Regions from separate parts of the Homo sapiens genome. Here regions 1 and 3 are each linked to region 2. Evidence: fine-mapped expression QTL. A gene starts in region 2. Each other region holds a variant in brackets. All regions are shown on one strand. Distances are between the middles of the regions.

Region 1 (10,815 bases), 67 kb after region 2:
TGAATTAACCTCACATACACTGTTGGAGCATGTAGCATGTCTCTGTTTTCTGGATGTAACTGATGAAGAATAAAACAGAATGAACAAATAACCGAAATGAAAAAGGAGGCACCACCTAGATATTTCAGACTATCATAAAAAGATATATTGGGCTGAGTGCAGTGGCTCACACCTGTAATCCCAGCACTTTGGGAGGCTGAAGCAGGAGGATTGCTTGAGGTCAGGAGTTGGAGACAAGCCTGGCAACACAGTGAGACCCTGTCTCTACAAAAAAATAAGGAATTAGCCAGACTACAGGTGGTGCACACCTGTAGTCCCAGCTACTCGGGAGCCTGAAGTGGGAGGAGCACTTGATCCCAAGAGTTCAAGGCTGCAGTGAGCTGTGATCACAACACTGTACTCCAAGCCCCTGTCTTTTAAAAAAAGAGGCCGGGTGCGATGGCTCACGCCCGTAATCCCAGCACTTTGGGAGGCCGAGGCGGACGGATTGCCTGAGCTCAGGAGTTTGCAACCAGCCTAGGCAACACGGTGAAACCCCGTCTCTATTAAAATTACAAAAAATTAGCCGAGCATAGTGGTGAGCATCTGTAGTCGCAGCTACTCGGGAGGCTGAGGCAGGAGAATCGCTTGAACCCAGGAGGTGGAGGTTGTGGTGAGCCGAGATCGTGCCATTGCACTCCAGTCTGGGCAACAAGAGTGAAACTCTGTCTCAAAGAAAAAAAAAACAAGAAAGAAAGAAAAAAGGTGGTGGTGGATACATAATTGTTTGAGTGCTAAATAAATTGACTCATAATTTAAAACCCTTCCTCAGAAAAAATGCCAAGCCCAGATGGCTTCACCGACTTGTACTAAACAGTTAAGGAAGAAATAGCAACTATCTTACATATATATCTATGTTCAATAAAAGTTGGTTTATGCTGTGCATATAATTTTAGAACCTGATTCTTCTCTTTGTAATATGAGCTTTTCATTTAATTATATATCTTTCTATTATAATAATGGTAGAATTGTATTCCATTATGTGAATAGTTTTTACTGGGTTTAAACAGCCCCGTTTTTGGACATTTGGGTTCTTCCTTGTTTCCCCCCAATTACAAAATGCAGCGAGCATCATTGTAGTCATTTCAACGTACATATGGCAGTCCACTTAGGATGGATCCTAGGGGAGTAGTTTGGGGGACAAAGGGTGTGTGAGATATCAATTTTTTGGCTACATATTGTCAGCTTTTTAAAAAAGTTATATTTTGGCTAGGCACAGTGGCCTGCACCTGTAGTCCCAGCTACTTGGGAGGCTGAGGCAGGAAGATTGCTTGAGCCTGAGAGGTCAAGGCTGCTGTGAACTGTGGTTGCACCGTGGCACTCCAGCCTGGGAAACAGAGCAAGACACTATCTCAAAAAAAGGTCATTTATTTACAGTCCCACCAACAGTACACGGCATGATTGTTGCTTTAATTCTTTTTTTTTTTTTTTTTTTTTTTTTGAGACGGAGTCTTGCTCTGTTGCCCGGGCTGGAGTGCAGTGGCGCGATCTCAGCTCACTGCAAGCTCTGCCTCCCGGGTTCGCTCCGCCTCCTGGGTTCACGCCATTCTCCTGCCTCAGCCTCCTGAGTAGCTGGGACTACGGGCGCCTGCCACCTCGACTGGCTAATTTTTTTGTATTTTTAGTAGAGACGGGGTTTCACCGTGTTACCCAGGATGGTCTCGATCTCCTGACCTCGTGATCCGCCCACCTCGGCCTCCCAAAGTGCTGGGATTACGGGCGTGAGCCACCGCGCCTGGCCCTGGCCCAGATTCTTTACATCAGGAACTCGGTGGATATTTTTGTGCATCACAGCCAGGCCCAGGCCTTCCTGTCTGTCACTGCTAACTTACTTCTTTTGTCAGGTTTCAGCTTGAATCTCACTCCTGGCATTTTCTCTGACCATGTAGACTAGGTTGGGGCCAATAACACATTTACACAGTTTCTGTCACATGGTGTATCATTATTTTTAAGAACTTACTTGCTATCTAATTGAGTAGAACATAAGCTTCATGAGATCAGAGACTATATTTACCTTCCTGTATATTCCTTACCTAGAACACGCCTGGCCTTCTAAATATTTGTTGAATAATTTGCCAATTTGATAGGTGAAAAATCGTAATTTGTTTTGATTTGACTACTTTGATAACTAATGAACTTGAATATTTTTATCCTGTTGATTGGCCATCCCATCTTTACTTCTGAATTCTGCCTTTCACATCTTTTCCTATTGGAGCATCTGCCTTCTGCATGATGGTTTATAGGAGCTTCTACCACATTATGGACATTATGCCTGATGGAAGGTTTTCTCTAGTAACTCATTTATATTTTTCTTTAACAGATTCTGAGGTTGGGACCAAGAAGGAACTATCTATTTTAAACCAAAAATTTTCCGAAGAAGTAAAAACCCCAGAATTTGTATCAAGAAGACTCTTAAGGGATAATGCACAGGCCGCTGAGTTTCGGGAAGCATGGGGCCGTGAGGGCAAACTCAAAGAGCGCGTGGGAAATTCTGCCGGGCAGAGTTTGAACAAACCCAATATTCACAAGAGAGTTTTAACAGAAGCTACCGTGGGCAGGGAAAGATCTTTGGGAGAAAGAACCCAAGAGTGTAGTGCATTTGATAGAAACTTGAATCTGGACCAAAATGTTGTTAGACTTCAAAGAAATAAAACAGGAGAGAGGGTCTTTAAATGTGATATATGCAGCAAAACCTTCAAATATAATTCAGACCTAAGTAGACACCAGAGAAGTCACACTGGGGAGAAGCCGTACGAATGTGGCCGGTGTGGGCGAGCCTTTACTCACAGCTCAAATCTTGTTCTGCACCATCACATTCACACTGGAAATAAACCATTTAAATGTGATGAATGTGGGAAAACTTTTGGACTCAATTCTCACCTCCGTCTTCATCGGAGAATTCACACTGGAGAAAAACCCTTTGGCTGTGGTGAGTGTGGGAAGGCTTTCAGTCGAAGCTCAACTCTTATTCAACATCGGATCATTCACACAGGAGAGAAACCCTACAAGTGTAATGAATGTGGAAGAGGCTTTAGCCAGAGCCCCCAGTTAACTCAGCATCAGAGAATTCACACTGGAGAGAAGCCGCATGAATGCAGTCACTGTGGGAAGGCCTTCAGTCGAAGCTCCAGCCTTATTCAGCATGAGAGAATTCACACTGGAGAGAAGCCCCATAAATGCAATCAGTGTGGGAAGGCCTTCAGTCAGAGCTCAAGCCTTTTCCTCCATCATCGGGTTCATACTGGAGAGAAACCCTATGTATGTAATGAATGCGGCAGAGCCTTTGGTTTTAACTCTCATCTTACTGAACACGTAAGGATTCACACAGGAGAAAAACCCTATGTTTGTAATGAGTGCGGCAAAGCCTTTCGTCGGAGTTCCACTCTTGTTCAGCATCGAAGAGTTCACACTGGGGAGAAGCCCTACCAGTGCGTTGAATGTGGGAAAGCTTTCAGCCAGAGCTCCCAGCTCACCCTACATCAGCGAGTTCACACTGGAGAGAAGCCCTATGACTGTGGTGACTGTGGGAAGGCCTTCAGCCGGAGGTCAACCCTCATTCAGCATCAGAAAGTTCACAGCGGAGAGACTCGTAAGTGCAGAAAACATGGTCCAGCCTTTGTTCATGGCTCCAGCCTCACAGCAGATGGACAGATTCCCACTGGAGAGAAGCACGGCAGAGCCTTTAACCATGGTGCAAATCTCATTCTGCGCTGGACAGTTCACACTGGTGAGAAATCCTTTGGATGTAATGAATATGGAAAAGCTTTCAGTCCCACCTCACGACCCACTGAAGATCAGATAATGCATGCTGGGGAAAAGCCCTATAAATGTCAAGAATGTGGAAACGCCTTCAGTGGAAAGTCAACCCTTATTCAACATCAGGTAACTCACACTGGTCAGAAACCATGTCATTGCAGTGTGTATGGGAAAGCCTTCAGCCAGAGTTCACAGCTCACACCACCTCAGCAGACTCGTGTTGGAGAGAAACCTGCTTTAAATGATGGCTCTAAAAGATACTTTATTCATATCAAGAAGATTTTCCAAGAAAGACATTTTTAATGTGATAAATGCAGAAGACAGTTTAGCAACTGTTCACTTGACATTAGAAGATAAGATGGCATAATGAAAGATATATAAGGTCTAAATATTACTGGCAAAGTAAAATAAATAGTTCAGATGACTACTAAAGTCAAAGTCATTAAATCTGGAAGTAAACACGAGAATTCATTCTGGGAAATCAGGCTGTCTGTGTAAAGGTTACTGCTGTGCTCAGGAGTTGAACCGTGTGGTGCTGTATCCGGATACTCATGACGAATGGATGGAGGGCGTGAAAAGTGAGCCCAGCTGGTGCTCTGGGTCTACCCTACCTGACATCCTTCCAGTCTTATCCTTTGTTTCCTATCCAGGCCCAGGCTTGTGGCTGAGAACATCCACTTTCAGTCCCATATACCTGCCTCCAAGTGTGGTACAGAGAACTTGGGCCTGCTGGGGGCGCTTAGCCTTACTCTCTCCACCACCTCTCCCACCAACCCCCAGATGAACTGCAGGTAGACGTTTCTTCCTTGCTTGGAGCCCCAGTTTTTGCATTTCATTTTCATTAAAATGAAAGGTGGTTTGGTTTTGGTTCTAAGGAGCTCTACAGTTTAACAGAGAGAGGGACCTTAGGGGCCAAGAAAGCAGGGGCCTACCAAGTATCTCCACTTTTGAAAATTGTAATTACTGATAAAAAATTTTTTAAAGGCAGGTTTATTGAAGCATAATTTATAAACAATAAAATTTACTCTTTTTAGTGTATAGTTCTTTGGGCTTTGACAAAAACATACAATTGTGCCACTACCACATTCCAGACATTGAACATCTTCACCACCACCCAGAATTCCTTTGTGCTCTCTTGTGGTTAACCCCTCCTCAACCCCAGTCCGTGGAAACCACTGGTTTGTTTTCTATCCTCTATCCATCACCTCACCATTTCCAGAAATAGTGTGCAGCTGTTTGCACGTGGCTGCTTTTACTGAACATGATGCATTGGAGTCATCCATATTGCCTGTGTAGAGTGCTTTTTTGCACCGAGTAGCATTCCATTGTATGGATGGAGCCATTTGTTTATCCGTTCACCCATGGCAGGGTATTTGGGCATTTTCAGTATGGGCAACTATGATTAAAGCTGCCATCACTGTGTATCAACTACAGGCTGTTTTGTGAATCTAACTTTTCAGTTATCTTGGGTAAATAGGAGTGGGATTGCTGGGTCATATGGTAAGCTTATGTTTAACATTTTAAGAAACTGCCAAACTTTTACAAAGTCAGTTGTATATCCCCACTGATGATGTGTGAGTTTAGTTGCTTTGAATCCTCACCAGATCTTGGTATTGTCCTTTTTTTTTTTTTTTTTTTTCCGAGGCGGAGTTTTGCTCTTGTTGCCCAGGCTGGAGTGCAATGGCGCGATCACGGCTCACCACAACCTCCGCCTCCCGGGTTCAATTCAAACGGTTCTCCTGCCTCAGCCTCCTGAGAAGCTGGGATTAGAGGCATGCACCACCACGCCCGGCTAATTTTGTATTTTTAGTAGAGACGGGGTTTCTCTATGTTGGTCAGGCTGGTCTCCAACTCCCGACCTCAGGTGATCCACCCACCTCAGCCTCCCAAAGCGCTGGGATTACAGGCATAAGCCAACGTGCCCAGCAGTATTGTCCATTTTTTAATATTCTAGCTATTTTAGTGGAGATGTAGTGGTATCCATGGTTTTAATTTGCATTCTCCTATTGACCATGGTTTGATCAGTAAGCATCTATTTAAAGAGTTTCATTGGGAAGTTTGAATAACACTGTAGTAGTTTCTCAGAGTGTGATCACCTGTGAAATTCTGATCTTCAATTCTTTTTTTTTTTCTCCTTTTTTCTGAAACAAAGTCTCGCGTTGTCACCCAGGCTGGAGTGCAGTGGCACGATCTCAACTCACTGCAACCTCCGCCTCCCAGGTTCAAGCGATTCTTCTGCCTCAGCCTCCCGAGTAGCTGGGACTACAGACGCGTGCCACCACGCCCAGCTAATTTTTGTATTTTTCTTAGAGACGGGGTTTCACCATGTTGGCCAGGGTGGTCTCAAACTCCTGACCCCATAATCCGCCCTCCTCAGCCTCCCAAAGTGCTAGGATTACAGGTGTGAGCCACCACGCCCGGCCTCTGATTTTCAATTCTGAGACTCTACCTGCAAGAATCTTTTTTCTTTTCTTTTCTTTTCTTTTTTTTTTTTTGAGACGGAGTCTCATTC[T/C]GTCGCCCAGGCTGGAGTGCAATGGCGCAATCTCTACTCGCTGCAAGCTCCACCTCCTGGGTTCACACCATTCTCCTGCCTCAGCCTCCCAAGTAGCTGGGACTACAGGCGCCCGCCACCACGCCCAGCTAATTTTTTGTATTTTTTAGTAGAGACGGGGTTTCACTGTGTTAGCCAGGATGGTCTCAATCTCCTGACCTCGTTATCCGCCCGCCTCGGCCTCCCAAAGTGCTGGGATTACAGGCATGAACCACCGTGCCCGGCCAAGAATCTTTTTTCAAATCTACCTTTCATTCCCTCCAGGTCTAACTGAAATATTTCCCCCCTTCAAGGAGCCTACCTTAGTTAATCTCTCATTCCATCTTTGTTTTCTTTTTTTCTTTTGAGACAGTGTCTCACTCTTATCACCCAGGCTGGAGTGCAGTGAAGCGATCACAGGTCACTGCAGCCTTGACTTCCTGGGCTCAAGCAACCCTCCGACCTCAGCTCCCAAGTAGCTGGGACTACAGGCACACACCACCATACCCAGATAATTTTTTAATTTTTTGTAAAGATGGTGTCACACCATGTTGCCCAGGCTGGTCTTGAACTCTTGGAGTCAAGCGATCCACCCACCTTGCCCTTCCAAAGTGCAGGTCTTACAGGCGTGAGCCACGGCGCCTGGCCTTACTGTTTTCTTAGGGAATTTGGGGTCACCGCTACATTTGGTTTAACATCCATTCTGTGATTTGCTGCGCTTATTCCCCCGCTCAGGTTCTGTCTCCCCCACTTTATTATTAAAATTCTTATCACAGAACCTCTTCCAAGTGTGGGAATTGCCAGCCTTAGTGTGGTCCATGTGGAATGGTCCACACAAAAGAGGGAGTGGATAGCACAGGCTCACCTGGAGGGTCCTGTCTCCCTCTGAAATGGATTCACTCTGACCTCAGGGAAAACACTGAATCTTCTTGGGTCTCTTTTTCTCCAGCTCTAAAATGGGGGAAAAAAACACCTCCCCCACGTCTAAAAAATAACTCTTTTACCCTTGTATCCCACAGCACAACATTCATATCCCCACCATTTCAACTTACATTTTCCTTTCTACCTCGTTACCCTACATTATACGGAGAACTCTCTGCTGTCAGAGATGTTGTCTTATGCACCTTTTTATCTCCAGCACACGATACAGAACAGGTGCTTAGGATGTACTTGGGAAGGAAGGAAGAGAGGTGAAGGAGGCAGAGAAAGGAAACAGTGCCAAGAATGTGCTTTGCGTAAATGTGAACCTTGTGTTCTGCTTCTGCTCTGTCCATGAGCACACTGGGTACATTAAAATTGTTTTCTCCTTCTGATCTACTGGAAAGGTCCCACAATGATGCCTCCCTTAAGAGGCCCACAGGCCTCACATTTACGTAGAATGGAAGGAAGCACCGGGGCATGGGAGGGCTTGTGGGTGGCTCTAAGGGCTGTTGTGACACGTACTTGCTGTGGACCCTGGGACTGAGGATGTTAGTAGGACAATGCATGGTTAAGCACCAAGAGAGCAAGGGAACACCTCAGGGGTAAAAATGAAGACCGAAATGAAAGTCAGAGCTTCCCACCTGGAAACTGATGCTAGGACAGCTCTGGGGCTCGTTTACAGCCCCCATGAAGACAGGCCTGGGTGGCTTGAGGGTGATGGTTGGAACCTGGGCCCCTGTCTAAAGCTGGAACCCCAAAGGGTTGAACCCCCTGTATAAAGACAGACTAGGAAAAAAATCCACCTGCGCATAAGGAGATGCTGGGCAGTCTCTACAAGTTTAGGAGATGGAGATGGAGCTGGAGTCCTGGGAGTCCAAGGTGACTAGAAGTCAAAGGAGCAGAAGAAAACTAACACAACAGAAGTAAATATACTCAAGCAAGCATCTGGAGATACTAAAAACATCTAGAATCAGATATTTTAAAACTAAAAAGTGTCTCATCCTATATTCTGTACCCCCAAAAAGAAACAGGAAGAAATACAGGAAGATATGGAACATAGGAAATTATAGACAAAATGACTCTTTCAAGCCTACTTCTAAATGGTTCAGAAAAAAGTGAAAGAGAAATAATATGGCAACGGTTAAGAACTGGTGAGTCTGAGTTAAGGTTATTTGGGAGTTCTCTGCATTATTGCAACTCTTCAAGTTTAAAATTATTTCAAAATAAAAAGCTCAGGGAGGCCGGGCGTGGTGGCTCATGCCTGTAATCCCAGCACTTTGGGAGGCCAAGGCGGGTGGATGATGAGGTCAGGAGATCGAGACCATCCTGGCTAACATGATGAAACCCCGTCTCTACTAAAAATACAAAAAATTAGCTGGGCATGGTGGTGGGCGCCTGTAGTCCCAGCTACTCGGGAGGCTGAGGCAGGAGAATGGCGTGAACCCGGGAGGCGGAGCTTGCAGTGAGCCGAGATCGCGCCACCGTACTGCAGCCTGGGCGACAGAGCGAGACTCCGTCTCAAAAAAAAAAAAAAAAAGCTCAGGGAGATGTTGATCAAAGGGTACCAAATTTCCTTTGTGTCCTTTGGAGGAAGTAAATAGGAAGAATAAGTTCAAGAAATCTACTGTACAACATGGTGACTATCGTTATTAACAATGTATTGTACTCTTCAAAACTGCCTAGAGTAGCTTTTTTCTCACCACAAAAAAGTATGTGAGGATGCATATGCTATTTAGCTCCATTTAGCCATTTCACAATGTACACATATTTCAAAACATGTCCATGATAAATATATACTTCTTTTGTCAGGTTCATAATTAAATAAAAACTTTAAGAAAGCTTAAGGCCAGGCATGGTGGCTCACGCCTGTAAACTCAGCACTTTGGGAGGCTGAGGGGGGCGGATCACCTGAGGTCAGGAGTTCAAGACCAGCCTGGCCAACATGGCAAAACCCCATCGCTACTAAAAATACTGTCCTTCAACTTCTATTACTTAGAGCTTAAAAAGAATCAGCCTATTACTAAGTCCAGTCTTCATTAATTTATAAACTTTTGTCAAGTAATCTATTGTACTTTCATAATTATAAATCAAAAATTAGTCTGGGCATAGTGGCTTACAATCCCAGCACTTTGGGAAGCTGAGGCAGGAGGATTGCTTGAAGCCAGAGTTTGAGACCAGTCTCGGCAACATAGTGAGACTCTGTCCCTACAAAAAACACAAAAGTTAGCCAGTCATGGTGGCTTGAGCTTGTGGTCCCAGCTACTTGAAGACTGAGGTGAGAGGATTACTTGAGCCCAGAAGTCTGAGGCTGCAGTGAGCTATGATGGCACCACTGCACTCCTGCCTGGGTGACTATGCAAGACCCTGCCTCTTAAAAAAAAAAAAAAAAATTAATATACTAAGAAGTTAAATGTTCAACTTAAGAAGTTAGACAAAGAATATTAGAGTAAACCTAAAGAAAGAAGTAGTAATGGGAAAATGAACATTTTAAAAAAGGAAACAATAAAGTCAATGAAGAAAACCAAAAGCAGGTTATTTGAAAGAGATACCAAAAGCACAAATGACAAAATAAAAAGAGAAATATTGACCTCATCAAAATTAAGAACTTTTGTGCTGCAAATGATACCATCAAGAAAGTGAGCTGGGCATGGTGGCTCACACCTGTAATCCCAGCACTTTGGGAGGCCAAGGCGGGCAGATCACGAGGTCAGGAGTTCAAGACCAGCCTGGCCAATGTGGTGAAACCTTGTCTCTACTAAAAATACAAAAATTAGCCAGGTGTGGTGGTGGGCGCCTGTAATCCCTGCTACTCAGGAGGCCAAGGCAGATTTGCTTGAACCCAGAAGGCGGAAGTTGCAGTGAGCCGAGGTCATGCCATTGCACTCCAGCCTGGGCAACAGAGCCAGACTCCGACTCAAAAAAAAAAAGAAAGTGAAACGACAGCCAGGCGTGGTGGCTCACGCCTGTAATCCCAGCACTTGGGGAGGCTGAGGCGGGTGGATCATTTTAGGTCAGGAGTTCGAGACCAGCCTGCCCAACATGCTGAAACCCCATCTCTACTAAAAGTACAAAAACTGGCCGGGCTCACTGGCTTACGCCTGTAATCCCAGCACTTTGAGAGGCCGAGGTGGACGGATCACGAAGTCAGGAGTTTGAGACCAGCCTGGCCAACATGGTGAAACCCTGTCTCTACTAAAAATACAAAAATTAGCTGGTGTGGTGGCGAGTGCCTGTAATCCCAGCTACTCGGGAGGCTGAGGCAGGAGAATCGCTTGAACCCAGGAGGCGGAGGTTGTGGTGAGCCGAGATCGCACCATTCCACTCCAGCCTGGACGACAGAGCGAGGCTCCGTCTCACAAAAAAAAAAAAAAAAAAAAAAAGTACAAAAACCATCCAGGCACGGTGGCGCACGTCTGTAATCCCAGCCACTCGGGAGGCTGAGGCAGGCGAATGGAGTGAACCCGGGAGGCGGAGCTTGCAGTGAGCGCAGATGGCGCGCCATTGCACTCCAGCCTGGGCGACAGAGTGAGACTCCGTCTCAAAAAACAAACAACTGAAAAAGACAACCC
Region 2 (8,491 bases):
TCGGTTTAAGAAGCGGACGGAGCTGTTCATTGCCGCCGAGGGCATTCACACGGGCCAGTTTGTGTATTGCGGCAAGAAGGGTTAGCATCGCGGCGGGGAAGGAAGGTCGGGGTGGGGAGGGGTCTGGGTGTTGCCTGAGGAGTTAACGTCCTAAGCCGATATGGGAACCTCGCAGGCAGAAGCTTCAGGTGGGGACATCCGCGTGGCCAGACCAGTGGCCACCGGTGGGTGCCGAGAGAGTTGTACCGGGAGGCTGGATGTTGAATGCTGTGCTCGCAACTTCGCGGGTTGCCTAGAGCGAGGGGGTTCGCATTGTTTCTTACTGTGCTGACGGCCTGATGCTGCTTCCCCTTGCAGCCCAGCTCAACATTGGCAATGTGCTCCCTGTGGGCACCATGCCTGAGGGTACAATCGTGTGCTGCCTGGAGGAGAAGCCTGGAGACCGTGGCAAGCTGGCCCGGGCATCAGGGAACTATGCCACCGTTATCTCCCACAACCCTGAGACCAAGAAGACCCGTGTGAAGCTGCCCTCCGGCTCCAAGAAGGTTATCTCCTCAGCCAACAGAGCTGTGGTTGGTGAGTATCAGGCAGCAGTTGAATGCTGAGGGCTGTGGGTGAACATGCTGTGAGTGCCGGTGGACAGCCAGTGGCTAGACTTGGTCCCTGGAATTCGATTACCTGTTGTTCTAAAACTTGGGTTCTGTAAGTTTGAGCTCATCCTGTAGTCTCAGTTGTCATCACTGTACAACAGGCACAACAGTACCTGCTTTACTGCTGTTGAGGCGTTAAATGAGATTGGGACGAAGTCACCAGGGTCTTGGATTCTACCGTGGGCTTCCTGATTGCTGCACTTGCATGCAGTTGGTTAACAGCCTTTTTAGAGAAGGCAGGGAGAGATTGTGGCTTTCTCAAAGACGCCTACTGAGTGAGTGAAAAAGGATTTGAGTCTAGGTTAACTCACTGTGCTGTTTGGGAACATCTTGGAATCCTTGTGATGAACTCAGCCTCGCACAGGGGAGGCTCTGAGGTTGTGTTCCTGGAATAAGTAAAGCTGAGATGGGGCAGGCTGAATCAAGTGTCTTACGTCAGGTTGAGTGGCCGGCCTGACGTCTCACACATGGTGAGGGGGGTGCTTCCCTGCGCTTGGAGCTCAGCCAGCATTCTAGGTGATGGAGGTGAGGGCCTTGGCTTGCCTGCCCATTGTGGATTGAAGAAACTGGATGTCAGCTCACAGGGTGCAAGGGGCTCCCTAGGGTGGAGGCGAGTGGGCTTTTTGCTGGGTAGTTGGATGCAGTATTGGGAAGGTGCATGACAGGAGATTGAGGGGAGGTGGGGGTGCTCTGACCGACTGGGGGTTCCCTGAGGTATCTGATCCCCTACAGGTGTGGTGGCTGGAGGTGGCCGAATTGACAAACCCATCTTGAAGGCTGGCCGGGCGTACCACAAATATAAGGCAAAGAGGAACTGCTGGCCACGAGTACGGGGTGTGGCCATGAATGTAAGTAACCCAGAAATGCAGGGTTGGGTATTGAAGTTACAGTGGCCACACTGTTGGGTAGGCAAGTCCCATCCACAGGTGTCCCTGCAGGAGGGGGATCTACGGTGGGAGGAGCAGCAGGTGGTGGTTTGTAGTCACGGGACTGTTGATCCTGCTCCAGCACTCCTGAAGGAGGTGGGCTCACCCTCCTTCACCGTTTCTCCGCAAGAAACGGAGGCTGGGAGGGGCAGTGGGGGCCTGAGCTGGAAAGAGTCAGCCTGACTGGGGTTGTCTAGCGGCACATGCTGTGGAGAGGGGCTTCGCGGAATTGGGCCCCTGACGGGTGGGACCCCGAGGCCGGGGGCGGGGGTGGTGGGGAAGAGGTTTCTAAAGCCATCTTTCTCTGCCTGCAGCCTGTGGAGCATCCTTTTGGAGGTGGCAACCACCAGCACATCGGCAAGCCCTCCACCATCCGCAGAGATGCCCCTGCTGGCCGCAAAGTGGGTCTCATTGCTGCCCGCCGGACTGGACGTCTCCGGGGAACCAAGACTGTGCAGGAGAAAGAGAACTAGTGCTGAGGGCCTCAATAAAGTTTGTGTTTATGCCACCTGGCTGTGCCCACCCCCATGGTTTCAAAGGGAGGGGTCCCTGCTGGGAGGATTTCTGTGGGATCCCCCTGGTTGGTACTGGGAGGGAGTTAGACTACTGAAGTAGACCACCAGTGAGTGGTAGAAGCTTGAAGGGAAAGTCCACAACTAGAAACGGGGTGCAGGTACCCTGGGCAAGACCCTTGCTTCCCCACAGAGGGGACCAAGAATGTGGCATCCAGGACCTGACACTTATGTGGGTGACTCAGTCCCATGGCCTGCAGTGCTTGGATGTGAACACTCATTTCACGTATCAGGAAACAGAATAGGACACAATCGTTGAGCCTGGTGTTCTGGACCATACCCTCACTCTGTCAGCTCCCTGCTAACTTTCTCAGCACCTGAGGCAGTCCTTTGCCCAGGGTCTTTTAGCGACACCCTTTCCCTCCATACTGGCTACAGCCCTGCTGATGTCAGTGTGTTTAAGTCACTGCCAGGGATACCTGGCTTGCAGGTGTCTGCCTTGCACTGGGAACTTGGGATGGGCCCTGAAGGAATGTGGGACAGGCACCCTGTCTACAGCCAGGAAGCCATTCCTAGCCTGGCTTTTACCATTCTGTTCTGCATGCATTCCCACCCCGCCATGGTGGGGAGTGGTCACTGACTGGAGGGTTCTGGGTGCTTTTTCCTGTGGGTGGTGGGTGGGGCCTCATGCCTTTCCTCATTTTCTAGCCTGATAGTGACAGGTGAGGTTGAGGGTGGTGATTGAGTGTGGGGTCCCAGGTCACTGCTGGGATTGCTGAACAAAGGGATGAATGCATGCAGTGTGTGTATGGGGAATCCCAGACCACCCAAGTCCCTTCACCCACCCACCCAGAGCCCTACACTGGACTGGAGCTGGCACCAGCAGTAGGTTGGTCTGCTCCTTGAGTCCTGTAACTCCACAGCTTCGCAGGGCATGTAGCCCCCTCTTCCCTGGGGCAGAGAAACTAACCAGGAACAGCCCCCAAAGCTGCATTGATTACCTTAAAGCACATGGCCTTTCCCTGCTGGCAGGGGCTGATACTTTGGTTCTCTCTAGCTTTGGTAGTGATGAGGCTGACAGTGATGATTGAGTGGAATCAGGTTGGAAGTGTTGGGGAACCCCCCCTGCAATGGGAGGGCAAGTAAGCTGGTTTCCGTCACAAGGCAGAGTGGAGGGGCTTCCTGTTTGGCCATAGCCCATGGCATCTTGTCCCTTAACCATGATCCAATGAGGAGATCCCAGGACAGCATCCTATCAGCACTTTCACACGAGGAAGTTCCACCAGCGAATGCAGCAGCTGCAGATCACTGCCCCTAACAACACTCCTGTGGAACTGCAGCAGGCAGGATGAGGCACGGTCTCTCCCTATAGACTTGGTTGGAGGGTGCCTGGCAGGTGAGAATAGTCACCTTAGGCTTCCGTGGTCACTCCGGGATGACAAGTCCTAACTGGCTGCGCGGTGGTTCCTGGCTGTCATGGTCCACGCTGTCTCTAGAGAACCTTACCCCCCATTTCGTGATCTTGCTTTCCTGATCCTGCTGGTATGGCCCCACCTGTCTTTGGGCGCCCACCACACCTAGGCAGTGACCCAGCAGGGCCTGTTTATTTTAGACAGGCTCTCGCTATTGCCAGGCTGGTCTCAAGCCCCTGGCCTCATGTGGTCCTCCCACTCCAGCCCCGCCTCCCCGCCAGTAACTACGGGACCTGGTTTTGATCTCGTCATTCGCAGGGCCGGTCCCAGGGTCCCAGCTGACTTGTCGAGAAAGAATCCAGGAGGGCGGTGTTTCCTCCTGAAGGATGGAGGGGCATCTGGAAAGAGGGTTTTGGGAAAGCACTAGATGCTTAGCTTGGCCATAAGCGGTCACTGTTTTTCTGCTCCCTTCTGGGCAAAGTGGACGGCAGGGCTTGGCCGATGGACCGGCCATGAGGGAAAGTTTGTTCCAGAAGCAGCTCAGGCACCCGAAAAACCCTTTCTCCAGAGTGGACACTGGGCCCCATTTACAGGAGTTAAGGATGAGGAGCAATAGGTTAAACCCAAGACAGGCTTCTTTGGCCAGTAAGCATCCTTTCTTGGCCCTAAGGAAGGGTGCGGTTCCCGTTTCTCTGTAAATCGAAGGGCCTAGTTCTTGTTTGCGGCGCCTTTCGTGCATCATTAGGGAGAGAATTTCTCAGAAAAAGGGAAAGACTAATATGTTTTCGCCTCTGACCATCGCCCCAGTTCTGAGGCCTCTGGGCCGTGGCTTCGGACTGCCACCCGGTGGCAGCATTCCCGCTTTACGGCTTTGCCATTCGCGGGTCCCCGGAGCCTTACTGCAAGCCAGGGAGGTGGGCAGCCGACACGCGGCGTCCTAGCTTCCCAGAGCGGCCCGGACGGCGCCTCGGACCCAGACAGTCGGCTGACGTCACTTCCGGATCGGTTCCGATTGGCGGGGAGGGAGGGCCGAACGGGCGAGGTTGGGCTGCCGTGCTGCTCGGCGGCGCTGAGGTGAGTGTGAGCCCGGCGGGGGCGGGCGCGCGGGGCGCAGACCCTCCCGGCGCAGACCCTCCCCTGCGCGTTGCCCCTGTGCCCGGTCCTCTCGCGGTGCTGCAGGCGTGGGTCCGTCCCGCCATCAGCGGCACTTCCTGTTCGAGGGACCCCCCGGACAAGGCCCCGAGTACGGACTGCGCCTCGCCGCTCTCTGCCAGCCCTGGGGTCGCTCCTCACGGGGCTCCTTCCGCTCTCGAGCCCCTGACAACTCCCTTGCCCCACGCGGGGTCCCCTGGACTCCTGCCGCACAGAGCGGCTTCTGCGTCCCGATGCGCTCCAGACCCCTTGGTCCCAGCGGCCCGAGGCTTCCCATCCCGGCTCCCTCCCACGCTCCTCTCCTGTCAGCTTTTCAGGGGCGGGGCTCGTGCGTCTCGCGGTCCTCCCAGCCCTCTGCGAATGCCGCCCCTCCTGCCTTTAGCGTCCGCGCTCCGCCAGTGCTCCTCCCTCTGCTTGTGCCTTCCCTCCGCCCCACCCTCCTCGCTTCTGGCGCTCCAAGGCTTTTCTCCCCGCAGCCAGGCAGCCAGATTTTTGTTTCTCTTCTTTATTTTTTCTTTCTTTTCTTTTCTCTTCTCTTCCTTCTTTCCTTTCTCTCTCTCTTTTTCTGAGACGGAGTCTCGCTCTGTCGCCCAGGCTGGAGTACGATGGCGCGATCTCGGCTCAATGCACCTTCCGCCTCCCGAGTTCAAGGGATTCTCCTGTCTCAGCCTCCCGAATACCTGGGATTACAGGCGCCCGCCACCATGCCCAGCTAATTTTTGTATTTTTAGTAGAGATGGGGTTTAACCATGTTGGCCAGGCTGGTCTCGAACTCCTGACCTCAAGTGATCTGCCCGCCCCAGCCTCCCAGAGTGCTGGGAATACAGGCGTGAGCCACTGCGCCCGGCCTCGTTTTCTTATATCTCTACAAACCTAATACTGTTTTTGTCTCTTAAAAATCTACATATGTATGGCAGAGCACGGTGGCTCACGCCTGCAATCCCAGCACTTTGGGAGGCCAAGGCGCGGGGGGGATCACTAGGTCTGGAGATCGAGACCATCCTGGCTAACCCAGTGAAACCCCGTCTCTACTAAAAAATACAAAAAAATTAGCCGGGCGTGGTAGCGGGCGCCTGTAGTCCCAGCTACTTGGGAGGCTGAGGCAGGAGAATGACGTCAACTCGGGAGGCGGAGCTTGCAGTGAGCCAAGATCCCGCCACTGCTCTCCAGCCTGGGTGATGGAGCAAGACTCCGTCTCAAAAAAAAAAAAAAAAAAAAAAACTACCTATGTATTATACTGTGTATATTCTGTACCTGACAGTTTTTCTCAGCCTTATAACTGTGCTCTATCTCCTTGACATTACTTTCCACCACTCTGACTTTGCTGATGGACGCTGAAGTTTTTTCTTCTTCTACACAGGCACATGGTAACATTTTTGTGTTTCTTTTTGTGTGCATTAGCAAGAGTCTCCATAAAGTACATACTTCGAGTGGGGTTTCCCCACTGAGAGTTTTGCAGGGTTTCAGTTCTACCAGGTAGGGCCAGACATATTTCTAGAGTGTCTACCAGTTTACAGTGTTCTGAACATTTGGTATTATGAAGTATTTTATATTTCCCCAATCTGTGGGGAGAGTCTTGTTTTACTTTACATTTTTTCTTAATTAAAAAATTAGAGATGGGGTTCTCACTATGTTGCTCAGGCTAGAGTGCAGTGGCCACTCGCAGGCGTGATCCCACTACTGATCAGCACAGGAGTTTTGACCTGCCCTGTTTCCCACCTGAGCTGATTCACCCTTCCTTAGGCAATATGGTGGTCTCCTGCTCCCCGGATGTCACCATATTGATGCCGAACTTAGTGGGGACACCCAATTGGCACAGCAGCACTACAGCCCAGAACTCCTAGATTCAAGTGATCCTCCTGCCTCAGCCTTCTGAGTAGCTGGGACTACAGGGTTTGCCAGGTCATATCCTGTGTTCATTTATTAAAAATTGTGACATTTTTCTAATTTAAAAATGTTTTAAATATATTCTGTATATTTATACTTTGTTATGTGTCTGCAAATATCTTTCACTCTGCAGCTTGTCTGCTTGCCTTTTATCTTTGTGGTGTCTTGTACAGAATCCTTTTTCTTTTTTTTTTTTTTTTTTTTTTTGGCAGGGTCTGGCTAAGGCTGGAGTGCAGTGACACCATCTTGGCTCCCTGCAGCCTCCATCTCCCACTCTCAAACGATTCTTCTACCTCAGCCACCTGAGGTTTTGACTGGAACCACAGGCTCACACCACCACGTTGGCTAATTTTTGTAGAGCTGGGGTTTCACCATGTTACCCAGGCTGGTTTCCTACTCCTGAGCTCAAGCAATCTGGCCACCTCGGCCTCCCAAAGCACTGAGATTACAGGTGTGAGCTACCATGCCTGGCCTTTTTTCTTTTTGATGGAATCAAACAATCTTTTTCTTTATAGGCTTTTATTGTTTATTTATTTTTATTTCTATTTATTTTTTTGAGACAGAGTCTTGCTCTGTCACCCAGGCTGGAGTGCAGTGGCGTGATCTTGGCTCACTGCAACCTCCGCCTCCCGGGTTCAAGCGATTCTCCTACTTCAGCCTCCTGAGTAGCTGGGATTACAGGTGCCCGCCACCACGCCCGGCTAATTTTTGTATTTTTAGTAGAGACAGTGTTTCACCATCTTAGCTAGGCTGGTCTTGAACTCTTGACCTTGTGATCCACTCACCTCGGCCTCCCAAAGTGCTGGGATTACAGGCGTGAGTCACCGTGCCCGACCTTTTTTTTTTTTTTTTTTTAATGTTTAGGTCTTCAACCTGCCTGAAGTATATTTGTGTACCACAGAAGGCAGGAAACTAATTTTATTTTCCAATGGAAAACCAGTTGTGCCAATACCATTTATTGTCCTTCTTCATTGCCATTAATATTGCAGGTATATTAACATATCCATAGATGTCTTCCATTATCTTTTTTCCTATACTTAAACTTCACTTTCCATTACCATAGCCTAAGTCTTGATATCTAGTAGGGCACACCCTTGCCTCCTTTGGTTGTTTTTTTGGTATTGCCTTAGCTAATCTTTTTTTTTTTTTTTCTGGAGACGTAGTCTCGCTCTGTCACCCACGATGGAGTGCAGTGGTGTGATCTCGGCTCACTGTAACCTCCGCCTCCCGGGTTCGCGCCATTCTCCTGCCTCAGCCTCCCGAGTAGCTGGGACTACAGGCGCCTGCCACCATGGCCGGGCTAATTTTATATTGTTAGTAGAGATGGGGTTTCACCATGTTAGCCAGGATGGTCTCGATCTGACCTCGTGATCCTCCCGCCTTGGCCTCCCAAAGTGCTGGGATTATAGGCGTGAGCCACTGCGCCTGGCCACACTGCCTTGGCTAATCTTAGATCGTTACTATTTCATGTGATATTTGGAGTCATTTTGGTCAGATATCATGTCCTGTTGAAATGTTTATTATAATTGCACAAAATAAATTTAACTTGGGGATAATTGATATCTTTATGTTATTGAGCCCTCCTATTTAGAAACATTGTCTGTTTCTCCATAGACCTTTCTAAGGTACTTCAATAAAGTTTTATAATGTTGTTCATTACATACATATCTTTTTTTAAGACTTAATGTACTGTATAGTTTTTGTAGCTATTGTGAATGGTCAGTTTTCGGTTGCTGATTGCTGACAAATAGAAGTGGTATTAATTATTCTCTGTTGACCTTGTATATGGCAATGCTGTGGAACTCCTGTCATTCCAACAGTGGATTGATAACTCTTGGATTTTCTATGTAGATTATTTTTATCATTCTCAAAGAATGATGATTTTGTCTTTTTTCTTCTGATCCTTGTAGCTTATATTTCTTTTTTCTGTAACTTACTGCTTTGGCTAGGAT
Region 3 (10,815 bases), 38 kb before region 2:
TTGAACCCAGGAGGCGGAGGTGGCGGTGAGCCAAGATCGCGCCATTGCACTCCGGCATGGGTGACAGGGCAAGACTCCATCTCAAAATCTCAAAAAAAAAAAAAAAGGACCCTCACTGCATGTGTCTTTTCCTATTTCAGTGAGACAGGGTAAACCACATCTAAATGAGTCTAAGAGGGCTCTTTAAAAAGTATAAAGTAAAATTAAATGATTAAAAAATGCGTGTAATCAGTAGCATTCCAACTTTCTTAAAATAATGATGTGTACATAACTACATGTTTTACAAAGTAAGGCATCTTAGACAGAATGAAGAAACAACACCTTCAAAGCAATAAGACACAGCGGACCTAGAATATGGGCAAATGCCCTGAACAGATATTTCACAGAAGAACCTGGCAAGCTAATGAGGGTGTGAAAATAGGCTCAAGCTCAGCAGAAATCAGAGAAATGCAAACTCAAACTACAACAGCCTCCCACTGTACACTTATCTGACTGGCAAAACAGAAAGCTGGACTTTGCCAGACTAGCCGGGACAGAGGGGGACAGGCCTGGTCCAACACCCCAAGAAGCTCCTGGCCAACCAACGATGCCCGCGTCAGTTCCACTCCTGATCCCCCAGCCCAGGCACTCTCTCGGGCGTGTGATGCAGCAGAGGGCTTAGTCACAGGCAAGAGGCCCAGCAAGGCCCAAGTTAAGACGCACCCCCCCTCACCAAGTTGCAATCCAACGACAGTATACAGCTTGTGAGGACACAGGCATGGACATAAAGAGCACCGCAGTGGCTGCCTGTGGCGGTGGTGGAGTTCAGAGAGGAGACTAACGGCAGGACAGGAGGGGCAAGGGGATGACGGCATCTGCAAAGCAGCCGTGTGGGCGTCGCTGCCACCTCTTGCTCGTTGCACAACCTTTTCCTTGGATTTCTCCACCCAATAATTTCTCTTTTCTTGTCTAAGCTATTTCAAGTTTGGATTCTATTTCTCACAATTTAACAGCTTAGGAAAAAAAGAGGCTTTACTAACTCCCAGAATCCCACCCACTCCCTGGGGGCTGAACCCCATGACATGGGCAAAGCTAGGAACCAGCCTGGCACACCACTCATGAGTCCAAGCCCCCTGTGGAGCCCACAAGGGTCTGAGCGTTTGGCCTGCATACCCCAGCCTCTGATGGAGGCCTGGCTGGGTGGGTGCTGACTGATGATGCAGGGGAAGGGGCCCCAAGGTGCAGCCTCACCTAGTCCAGCCACACTGCTGTGGTTCTCCAGCATCACTTCCCTGTAGAGGGCCCTCTGGCCAGGGTCCAGACACTGCCACTCCTCCCGAGAGAAGTGCACAGCCACATCGCCAAATGTTACCACCTCCTGAAAGGACACACACCAGCACCCCAGGAATCCCTGGGTGCCAGCCCCCTTCTGGCGCTGCCTCATGACATGTCTCAGGCAGCTGCCCCATGGGGTTGGGCGAGACGCTCACCAGGACTCCTCTGCCTCTAATATTCTGGGGAGGGGCAGTCTCGGGGAGGAGGAAGGAACCCAGTCCATGGTGGTCATACAACCCTCCCCCCTCAAGAGCCTCAATTAGGCCCTGGTTTGGGCAGGGGTTTGCTCACTACCTTGGGGTTGGGGGCAAGGGGGCCTTCCTAAGCCCAGCAAGGGCCAAGGTAGGGTCTGGGCCCAGGGCCAGTGGGCAGAGCAGGAGGTGGGCCTTCACAGGACATGCGAGGGGAAGGAGGCAGTCAAGCTTCCTACCATGAGGCTCAGTGGTGGGTGGGCATCCACGTGTTCTGGCCGAGAGACCTGTTGGCAATTATGAAAGGATTAGAGGTCAAGGTGCCAGAAGCCCAACTTCCAGGCTAATCAAGGGGGTACTGTGCTCTCTGCTCCTTTACCTCCAGCCCCAGATTTCTCTAGCAGGGACATGGGGCTGGGCTGAAGCAGCCATGGCACTTGAGTGAAGGAGGCCCACTGAACTCTTGTTCCTCTTTAGAGTGTATGTGTGTGTGGCATGTGTGACTCACTCCACAAAGCCGTAAGAAGTGGATGCCACGTGCCAGGCACTGAGTAATGGGGATACAGTAGTGGACACGAGGACCCTGCCTTCACGAAGCAGTCTGGCGGAGGAAAGAGTTAAATAACCACACAAATAAGCACACTGCAACCACGACAGCGCTCAAGTACAGGGAACTATGAAAGCCACTTAGACTAGAACGTTCAGTGTAATGGGTCACTTCCCCAGGGACCTCGGCCAAGGTAATGGAGGTGGAGAGAGCACTCCAGGCAGCAGGAATAGCATGTGAAAGGGCCTGAAGCAAGAAGAAATGGGGTTGGATGAACCAGTGTGGGTAAATTCCCGGCAGCAAGGGAAGGCAGTGAGCGACTGGAGGTTGGGGAAGGCAGTGAGCGACTGGAGGTTGGAGAAGGCAGGAGCAAAAATGACAAACTGTAGGGAAGACAAGAGTGGACATGGAAACCCCTGCCCTCAAGTACATAAATTCCAGTCTCCAGCTCACCTGTCGCCAGGATGGAACCAGGCACAGGGATGTAATCTGATATAAATCGTTCACCTCAATTAAGCCAATGACCCCAGACCCTCTACCTGCCCAGGCATTCCCCCGGGAGGTCGGAATGGGAAAAAGAGTCTTCGTATGGCAGCTTCTGGCCCAGAAAGTGGTTTGTGGGTGGAAGCCCCAGGTCACCGGCACAGGTAGGCTGATCCCCCCACCTGGCTCCTGACAGTAGGAATGCCCGGAATAGCAACCAGAATTTAGAGAAGACAAACAGCCTACCCCACCCAAGGCACCGTTCCTTCCTCCACTGTCACTTATCCTAGGCCTTCCGGGGCAATAAATAGAAAGAGAAAAGGCTCTAGAAGGAGGTGATTTCGCAGGAGGAGTCAGGGCCCCGGGAGTAGACCCAGGCCTGAAGAAAAGGCCGCAGCTGGAGCTCGCCTTACTCAGGCCCCGGACACCGTGGCCGCCACGAGCGGGGTCTGCGGGGAGCTGCGAGACTCGGCCAAACGAAGCCCACCTCGCGCCGCCGCGGGGGAGGGTGGCTGGGCTCGACCACCTCCCACACCAGGCGCTCAAGGCCCCGCAAAGCCCCCGCGCTTTCCCGCCTGGAGGCCCGGGGGACGCGGGGACCCCAATGCCGAAGGCGGGAGGGCTAAGGAAGCGACCAGGGATCACTCGGACCGAGGGCAACCCGAGTCCGCGCCCGCCGCGCCGACTCACCCTCCCTGAGGACCACCCGAGGCTCGCAAACGCGCGACGCCGCCGGAAACGGGCCTTGGCCACCCGCGTCCGCCCCGCCCCGCAAACTTCCGGCCGCCCTGGGCCGCTCGGAGGCCCGGCCATCTCTGTGGTTCTCAGCCCCGCCTCCCAGGCTCCGGAGAAGGGGTGGAGTCAGAGCCGAGGAGGGGCGAGGCTGGGGCCCGAGGGACAAGAACCTGGGCGGGACCAGAAGCCCAGATAGGCGGGGCTGGCGCCTGGGGGCGGGGTACAGTCAGAGGCGGGCAGGGGGCGGAGCCGCGAGGGAGAGGAGGGCCCAGAGCCCGGAGTGGGCGGTGCCTGAGCAGGGGCGGGGCGGGGCCGGGGCCTGGAGCTGGGGACGCGGGCCGGGGCCGGGAGTTGCGGACTCGCTGGCGGGTGGGAGGAGCGGAGTCGGGGCGAGGCTGGCGGAGATCCAGGGGATCGCCCGGTTGGGCCCTGCGCACCCCGGATCACCAGCTTCGGGCGCTGGTTCCCACCGAGGCTGTTCAGGCGCCGCTCCCCCGCGTCCCTGCGACAGGAGGCGCCTGCTGGGCGCGCTATGGACCCCGCCTCGCGGAGACGCCTGGCTCGGGCCTTGTCCCCAGTGAGCGGCTGGAGCGGCCGCGGGGTCGCAGAGCCTCCGGGACCCCGAGGAAGGGCGCCCCTCGGAGTTGCCCGAGGCCGGGCCCGGCGTCCACTCGCCACTCGCCTCGCCCCTCCCCGGCCCCGCACCGCCCTCCACCCCGCCTCCTTCGGGTTCCTTCTGCGTCCGGCAGAGCCTGCGCGCCTCCCCCGGACGGCCACGGACTCGCAGCCTCGGCGAGGACGCTGCCTGCGTCCCGACTGCCTGGACCTCCCCGCGTGGCTCCCGGCGAAGCCCAGCAGCCGGAGGGTGCCAGGTCCGCCTGACGCGCCCCTCCCCACGGGAAGAACGGGGCGGGGGTCCAGGAGGGACGTAAGCCGGGCTCCCCCGGCGTGTTGATCCGAACCCGCGCGGGAAAACTTGCGCAAACCAAAGGAGGGAAGAGTCAGGCAGCCCCCAGCCCCCCAGGGAGGCCCAGGTGAAAAACAGACGCCGGCCTCGCCTCTCCCGGTGCGGATGATCCCGGCACTCCCACCCCCGCCCCTGCTGCCCCGAGTTCGGCTCCCTCAGCCCCACATCCTCTCTGGTCATCTAAGTGGACTGCAGCTGCTCAGGGAGCATGTCGCGAAGGATAGGGAAGGACAGGGGGTCTGCTTCCCCAGCCGCCCTCCAGACCCCCAGGGCTGGTAGGGGCCGGCAACCCTATGCCCCAACCTGGCCTGCTGCAGGTGAGGGGGGCACACCAGGGTAACACAGGAGCAGGAGGGGGAGAAAGCCTGGCTAGAGCATCCACCTCATAGGCACCTTCCTTGTGTCCAGGGTGCAGATGCCAGGGCTCTGAGGCCCTGAGGTCCTGTCTGGGGCGAGGGGGCTTCCTCCATCCACTGCATCCACTGCCCGGCTGAGTCTAGAGGCCACTGAGCAAGCAGACCCTCCAAAGCCAGGCACACTCAGGCCCTCACATGGTCACGGTGCTTATGCTCTGGGCCAGCCTGGATTGCTCATCCCTAGCTGAGATTGGGATTCACAGGGTCTTCCAGTTCCCCCTTTTCTTTCTCTACTGATTGAGAAACACAGAGTCCTTTGATTGCTCTGGGACCTGGCCATTGCGTGTTCCCTGCAGCCTTGAACCCAGTTCAATGGGGCCGGGCACATTCCCTGATAAAGCTGTTTAGGTTGCTTGAAAACACAATCAACCCTATTGCTAAACACGTAGAAACTGGCCCTGCCCTGAGTCCAATCCCTTAAACTCTCATCTAAGCTCCATAGCCAGAGTCCCTTGCTGCAAATGTACCTGGGTGGAGCATCCCTTGCCTCATCATCGATCCCAAGAAAGCTGAAGCTCCATGTGAAAATTTCCGGAAGAAATGCTCTGGACTGATCACCCTGGCGTTTAGAGCTTCTTTCCTTGGAATCCCAACCAATTCCATCGCGGGACTGTTTGGGGAAGTCTTTTGAGGCAACTCCCTTGCTGCCACTTTTGGGGCAACTCTAGCCTCCTCATATTTGGCCAGATAGAACAGTTCCAAGCTGTAAATGTTTCCAGGAAAAAATCTCAACTACAAAGACACTTTCAAGGTGCTGCATTTCCAACAGCACTCTCCGTATCCGAGTGGACAGCCCAGAGCAATGGTGCTTCCAATCCACAGAGCCCCTCCACAGGTCCCTTGCCATCTGCAGACACCCACATCTCAAGGTGAGTGCAGACACCCACATCTCAAGGTGAGTTCAAATGTATCCTGGATTTGTTTTTTGTTTGTTTGTTTGTTTTTTAAGGCAGAGTTTCACTTTTGTTGCCCAGGCTGGAGTGCAATGACAGTCTCAGCTCACTGCAACCTCTGCTCCCGGGTTCAAGCGATTCTCCTGCCTCGGCCTCCCGAGTAGCTGAGATTACAGGCACCTGCCACCACGCCTGGCTAATTTTTTGTATTTTTAGTAGAAACGGGGTTTCACCATGTTAGCCAGGCTGGTCTCGAACTCCTGACCTCAGGAGATCTGCCCACCTCGGTCGCCCAAATTGCTGGGATTACAAGCGTGAGCCACCGCGCCCGGACCCGTGGATTTGTTTTAACAGGTGTGGTAAGGCATGCACACGTGAGAATGACTGTTGTGAAGGAAGAAGTTATAGTCGTGGGTCCCTGGAAACTGGGCAGGGCACACAGGG[C/T]GACATGAGAAGGACCAGGGATGGCCAGGAGGCAGAAAGGGGGAGAGGACTGAGTTTGGCCGGAGCCTTTATTTTCTCTGGAAGGAGAGGGCAGGCAGGGTAGGTATGCAGAGTGAGCTCACGATTGGACTATTTGAACAATTGTGGCAGGCTCAGGGCTGTAGGGGTGGCCCCTTCTTGTCCGGTACCTGGCCCTCGGGTTACTTAGGGCAGGGGAAATATTGGCTTGGTGAGTGACCGTGTGATAAGGGAGGGAGATAGTTGTGGACTCTGGATTGGTTGGTTTGTGTCTCAAAGGTGCACTGGGGCTGGGCACAGTGGCTCACGCTTGTAATCCCAGCACTTTGGAGGCCGAGGAGGGCAGATCACCTGAGGTGAGACCAGCCTGGCCAACATGGTGAAACCTCGTCTCTATTAAAATACAAAAAAATTAGCAGGGTGTGGTGGTGCACGCATGTAGTCCCAGGTATTCAGGAGGCTGAGGTGGGAGAATCGCCTGCACGCAGGAGGCAGAGGCTACAGTGAGCCCAGATCACGCCACTGCACTCCAGCCTGGGTGACAGAGCGAGACTCCGTCTCAAAAAAAAAAAAAAAAGGTGCACTGGAAGGGGAGTGTTTGCCGTCTCTGGGAATTAGCTAGCCCTGGAGGGAGCAGCCTCTCCAGGATCAAGGCCCCAAATGCTTGGGTGACCCTGGAGAGCAGGGACGGAGCCCTGCAAACAAAAGGTTCTTCATTCTATGCACACACTCTCTGGTGCATGGTTTCAAAATGTCTTCGTGAAGTCGGGTCCAAGCCTCTATGCAGTGGAGAGAACACCTAGGGAGGAACAGTGCCTGACGGGTGAGCTGGGGAGGAGTGGGCACTGCCAGGAGGGCACTGGGCTGCTGTGGGATGGGGTGAGGTGAGCATCAGGTCGCGGTGCTGTAGGTGTTCCTGGAAGGCACCCTGGGCCCTCTGGACAGTCAGTCCTCACCCATGCCGCACCCATCAGAGTACAGAGATCGTGCCTCCCTGTAGTGATGATCTGTTTGGGATGGCATGATGACAACCACAAGCAGAATCTGCTTTTCTCTAACAGCCAAATCAAGAGAGACTGGAGGCTTGTGCCAGCTGGGCATCTTTGGGGGTGAGATCTTGGCAGCCGCTTCCTACCCTTCAAGTGTCCTGTGGGCAGCCCGCCTGGCTAGCTGGGTATGAGGGTCCGCCGGTTCAGGCCCTGCCTGCTGCACCTCCCCAGGCTCACTCCAGGCCTCTGGACTGTTTTCCTCAAGCAGGATTTCCAGCCTGCAAACCTGAGCTAATCTCCCTGCTGGAATGAGGGGAGGCGCCCTGGATCCTCACCCGGCCAGAAACGGGGGAGAGTGCTCCCAAGGGACCCTAGCAGAGGTGAGTGAGCGTGAACAGGGTGGACACAGCTCCACTGCCATAGGCCAGGCCACAACTTGGAGTGGGCCTGGGAGCTCAGAAGTTTCGGAGGACAGAGAACTAGGAGCCAGGAGCCTCCAAGAGCCACAGCGCCCACCTCACGGAGGGCTGGGGCAGACAGCTGGCCCCACCTGGGCACCATGCCATACAGAGACCCACGAGTGCCAGAGCAGCCACAGGACTGGGGTTTTGGGAACAGCAGTAGAGGCTGCTGCGCACACACAGAGGAGGATGGCACAGAGGCCCTGGAGATGGAGGCTCTGCTGTGCGTTGGGGATGGCCGTGCTGCCATCACACCAGGGATGTCCAGGGGGAGGCAGCCTCAGGAAGCAGTGCCACACGGGCTGGTTATGAGTCGACAGTGAGGCTTCCAGCTTGAGGACCCGGTGACATGGGCTGGGAGAGGGTATCTACTGCCGTGACCTTGGAGGGTCTTCTCTGTGCCTGCTGTTCAGGGCACCAGGGGTCCTGAGGGGAGATGGTCGGTCAGGGAGGAGCAGCCTGAATGACAGCGATTGGCTTTGCCCTGGTGCAGGGACTGTGGTCATTCCAGGTGAGGGTGAGGAGAAGTGAGGTCAGGTGAGGCTGGGTTTCCAGGCCCTTCAGCAGCACATGGCCGTTTGAAGTGCATCTCAGGAGGCAAGGGATCCTTCCCTGGGTTCAAGCAGGAGAAACCTGGGGTTCGATTAGCAGCTGTTAGGACCTCCATGTTGTCATATTGGTCATTCGGGGCCTGTTGTTGAACAGGAACAGCTGCATTGCTGGTGGGGGCTGTACCATGGAGGAGAGGGGGAGCTGTCAATCAACCACCATTGCAGACTCTGCAGCACCCGAGTGGCGACAGAGATGGTGTGGTGAGAGGTTGGTGGGACTGCTGAGGTGCCCAGGACCAGAGGGGCTCAGCACAGAGGGGTCCAGGCCGGGTCTGTCCCCCCAGGACAGAGACGCAGTTTGGGTCTAGGTGGGGGTCTGTCCATCAGCCTTGGGCTTGTGGCTGGGGATGGCTGAGATTTGACTGTTGTTTCTTTGCAGTCTTGGGGTTTGGGAGTAGATTTTGAATTTGAGCAGGTGTAGAGACAAGAAGTTTTCAAGAGTTTCAGAAAAAGGAGTCAGCCGGGCACGGTGGCTCGTGCGTATAATCCCAGCACTTTGGGAGGCCAAAGAGGGCAAATGGCTTGAGCTCACGAGTTCTAGATCAGACGGGGCAACATGGCAAGACCCTGTCTCTACAAAAAATACAAAAATTAGCCTGGCGTGGTGGCGGGTGCCTGTAGTCCCAGCTACTCAGGAGGCTGAGGCAGGAGAATCACTTGAACCTGGGAGGCGGAGGTTGCAGTGAGCCAAGATCACGACACTGCACTCCAGCCTGGGTGATGGAACCAGACCTTGTCTCAAAAAAAAAAAAGAAAAGAAAGAAAACAAAGGAGCCAGGAGGCCACGGCTAGAGCCCAGGGCAGAAACCCTCAGCCGGTAGCTCAGACCTCAAGCCAGGTTGTGAGGACTGTAGCCCTGGCTAGGGGCGTGGAGCCCGTGGACGGCCGGCCATTCTCAGTGGAAGTTAGAGGGAGGAGAAGGGGACGTCCTGGTGTGATGGACAAGAGGAGGGTGTCCTAGAGGAGGGAGGGTGGCCGGCCACCAGGACTGGACCTGAGTCTTGACTCATCATTGAGGCCCAGATTGTTTCACAGAAGGGGGGCCTGCTCACCAGCTCTCCCCAGCTCACAAAGACCCACGAACGCGGAGGGGCCTCTCTCCAGCTCTCCCCAGCTCACAAAGACCCACGAACGCGGAGGGGCCTCTCTCCAGCTCTCCCCAGCTCACAAAGACCCACGAACACCGAGGGGCCCTGGAGCTGCCGGATGAGCCGGCTTGGATTGCTGGGCCATGTCGATGCAGGCGACAGCCGGGGCACAGGGCTTGTGAGGCCCAACAGTGTCTTGCCTCCTTGGGGTGGACTCTGAGAACAGACAGCTCCAGAGCTTAGAGCCTGGCAGGTGAGAGGCACTGGGGGTGCCTGGTGGGGCCTCTCTGGCAGCTGCTGACAGGCTGGTCCTGAACTCCTGGCCGCAGCTCTGGCTGCCTCCACATCAGCGGCAGGTGCAGCCGTCAGGTGTGTCTCACGGCAGGTGAAGGTTGTTCTCAGGCCTCAGGGCCCCGGAGTCCTCATCTGGCCCCCACTGGTGCCCTCCCCATCTTCCTCGCCAGTGCCCTTTCAGACCTGTGACCCCTTGGTCACTCTTATGTGGCCTGCGGCGTGAATGACAGTTTTCCCTCACAGGCCTGTCTCCAGCTGAGCACCTCTGAGCTCCCCTAGACTCCTTGGGGGCAGGGTCAGAGTCTCCCATGACCTCGAGTCCTCCAGGGACCAGTGCCCCACAGGTCCAGCCTGCATGGGGATAGGCAGAGCCAGAGAGTGGCCACAGGCCTGCTGCGGCAAGAAGGCAGGTGGCACGTGAGCCACCGCACCCGTCCTTCCCGGGCTGGTGGTATCTGCCTGTGTCCCTGTGCTTATGGCTGCTGGCGTAAACGTAGTTACTGGCCCCTCGTAGCAGGCCTCAAGGACTCCGTGGGCCCTACCTGTGCTCCTGTGTTTCTTGTGGCTGGGGCAGCAGCAGGCTGTGAGAAGCTCCTCCTTCATACGAGGGTTTCAGACCATGCTGGGTGTGCCAGGATGCCTTCGTGGGCAGTGGGTGGCAAGGCCGCTCCGTCCTGGCAAGCCTGCCCCTGCGCACTCGCGCGGTGGATGCATACAGGTGGCCGGTGCTCCCTTCCTTGAGAATGGAGGCCGCTTGGCGGGAGACACCCAAGGGAACGGCAGCACCTTGACAGGTTTGCTTCACTGCCCTTGGCTCCTGCCTTGCCGGAGTCTGTGTGTCCCTCAAGAGGGGCCGGTCTGCAGGGTACAGAGGGACCAAGGGATGTCCCCCCAGGGTACAGATGGTCCAGGAGGATGCTTTGCAGCTTCTCAGTGGGCATTGCCCCAGGGAGGCTGGTCTGCCCGATGCCAGGTGCTCAGGGATGGAGGATCCAAGCCTAAGCCACTTCCAGGCCTGTCAGGGCAACCTCCTCGGCTCCTGCAGCACAATCTTTCTGGTTCACTGCAGTAACCCTGGGTCCAGAACAGCCCTGACATGTCACAGCCCCTCCCCGTTCAAAAGCTGGTCTCTCAGCTCGTCCTCACAAGCACCTGTGAGGCAGGAGATGCCCTCCTTTGCAGGTGAGACACGGAGGCACAGAGGTCAGGCTGCTAAGGGTGCCACCAGGGTCTCCCCCACGCCCACAGAACCACCTCCTGCCTTCCACAGCAGCTGTGTGTGGGAGGAGGACAGTTGTGGGTGATTGCAGGCCAGGTGTGATGCTGAGCAGGAGAGGAGGAGCACAGGTGAAAGGAGCTTGTGT

Direction of the effects. Positions count from the first base shown, and alleles are read on the strand shown. Sizes are in standard deviations (SD) of each study's normalised expression. Not every link is listed here.
With allele C in place of T in region 3, the expression in unexposed skin of the gene that starts at base 4,536 in region 2 is higher (small effect, 0.35 SD a copy in GTEx).

What was found. PIP is the estimated chance that this variant, and not a neighbour inherited with it, causes the effect.
Region 1: its variant is fine-mapped to the expression of ZNF34 in whole blood (TOPMed, PIP above 0.99).
Region 3: its variant is fine-mapped to the expression of ZNF34 in unexposed skin (GTEx, PIP 0.96).

What each region holds. Positions count from the first base shown.
Region 1 is chr8:144,714,927-144,725,741 of GRCh38, reverse strand. ZNF251 (zinc finger protein 251) reads left to right here. Exons shown (of 5, transcript NM_138367.2): 5 at 2,360-4,833. The coding sequence ends at 4,098. Among named protein-coding and RNA genes, the nearest start is that of ARHGAP39, 34 kb to the right of the region's middle. The variant T/C (reference allele first, on the strand shown) is at 6,308.
Region 2 is chr8:144,783,362-144,791,852 of GRCh38, reverse strand. ZNF34 (zinc finger protein 34) reads left to right here and starts at 4,536. Exons shown (of 6, transcript NM_001286769.2): 1 at 4,536-4,574. RPL8 (ribosomal protein L8) reads left to right here. Exons shown (of 5, transcript NM_001317782.2): 2 at 1-80; 3 at 358-576; 4 at 1,383-1,498; 5 at 1,891-2,084. The coding sequence ends at 2,049. It also overlaps the pseudogene RN7SL395P. RefSeq lists enhancers at 784-1,283, 1,284-1,785, 3,968-4,027, 4,068-4,297 and a silencer at 4,448-4,807.
Region 3 is chr8:144,820,020-144,830,834 of GRCh38, reverse strand. It overlaps ZNF7 (zinc finger protein 7), which reads right to left and starts at 3,275. Exons shown (of 5, transcript NM_003416.4): 1 at 3,226-3,275; 2 at 1,745-1,792; 3 at 1,231-1,357. The coding sequence starts at 1,747. It overlaps LOC100130027 (a long non-coding RNA gene), which reads left to right and starts at 3,795. Exons shown (of 5, transcript NR_147501.1): 1 at 3,795-5,522. RefSeq lists enhancers at 2,046-2,571, 2,572-3,097, 3,098-3,623 and a silencer at 2,955-4,084. The variant C/T (reference allele first, on the strand shown) is at 5,991.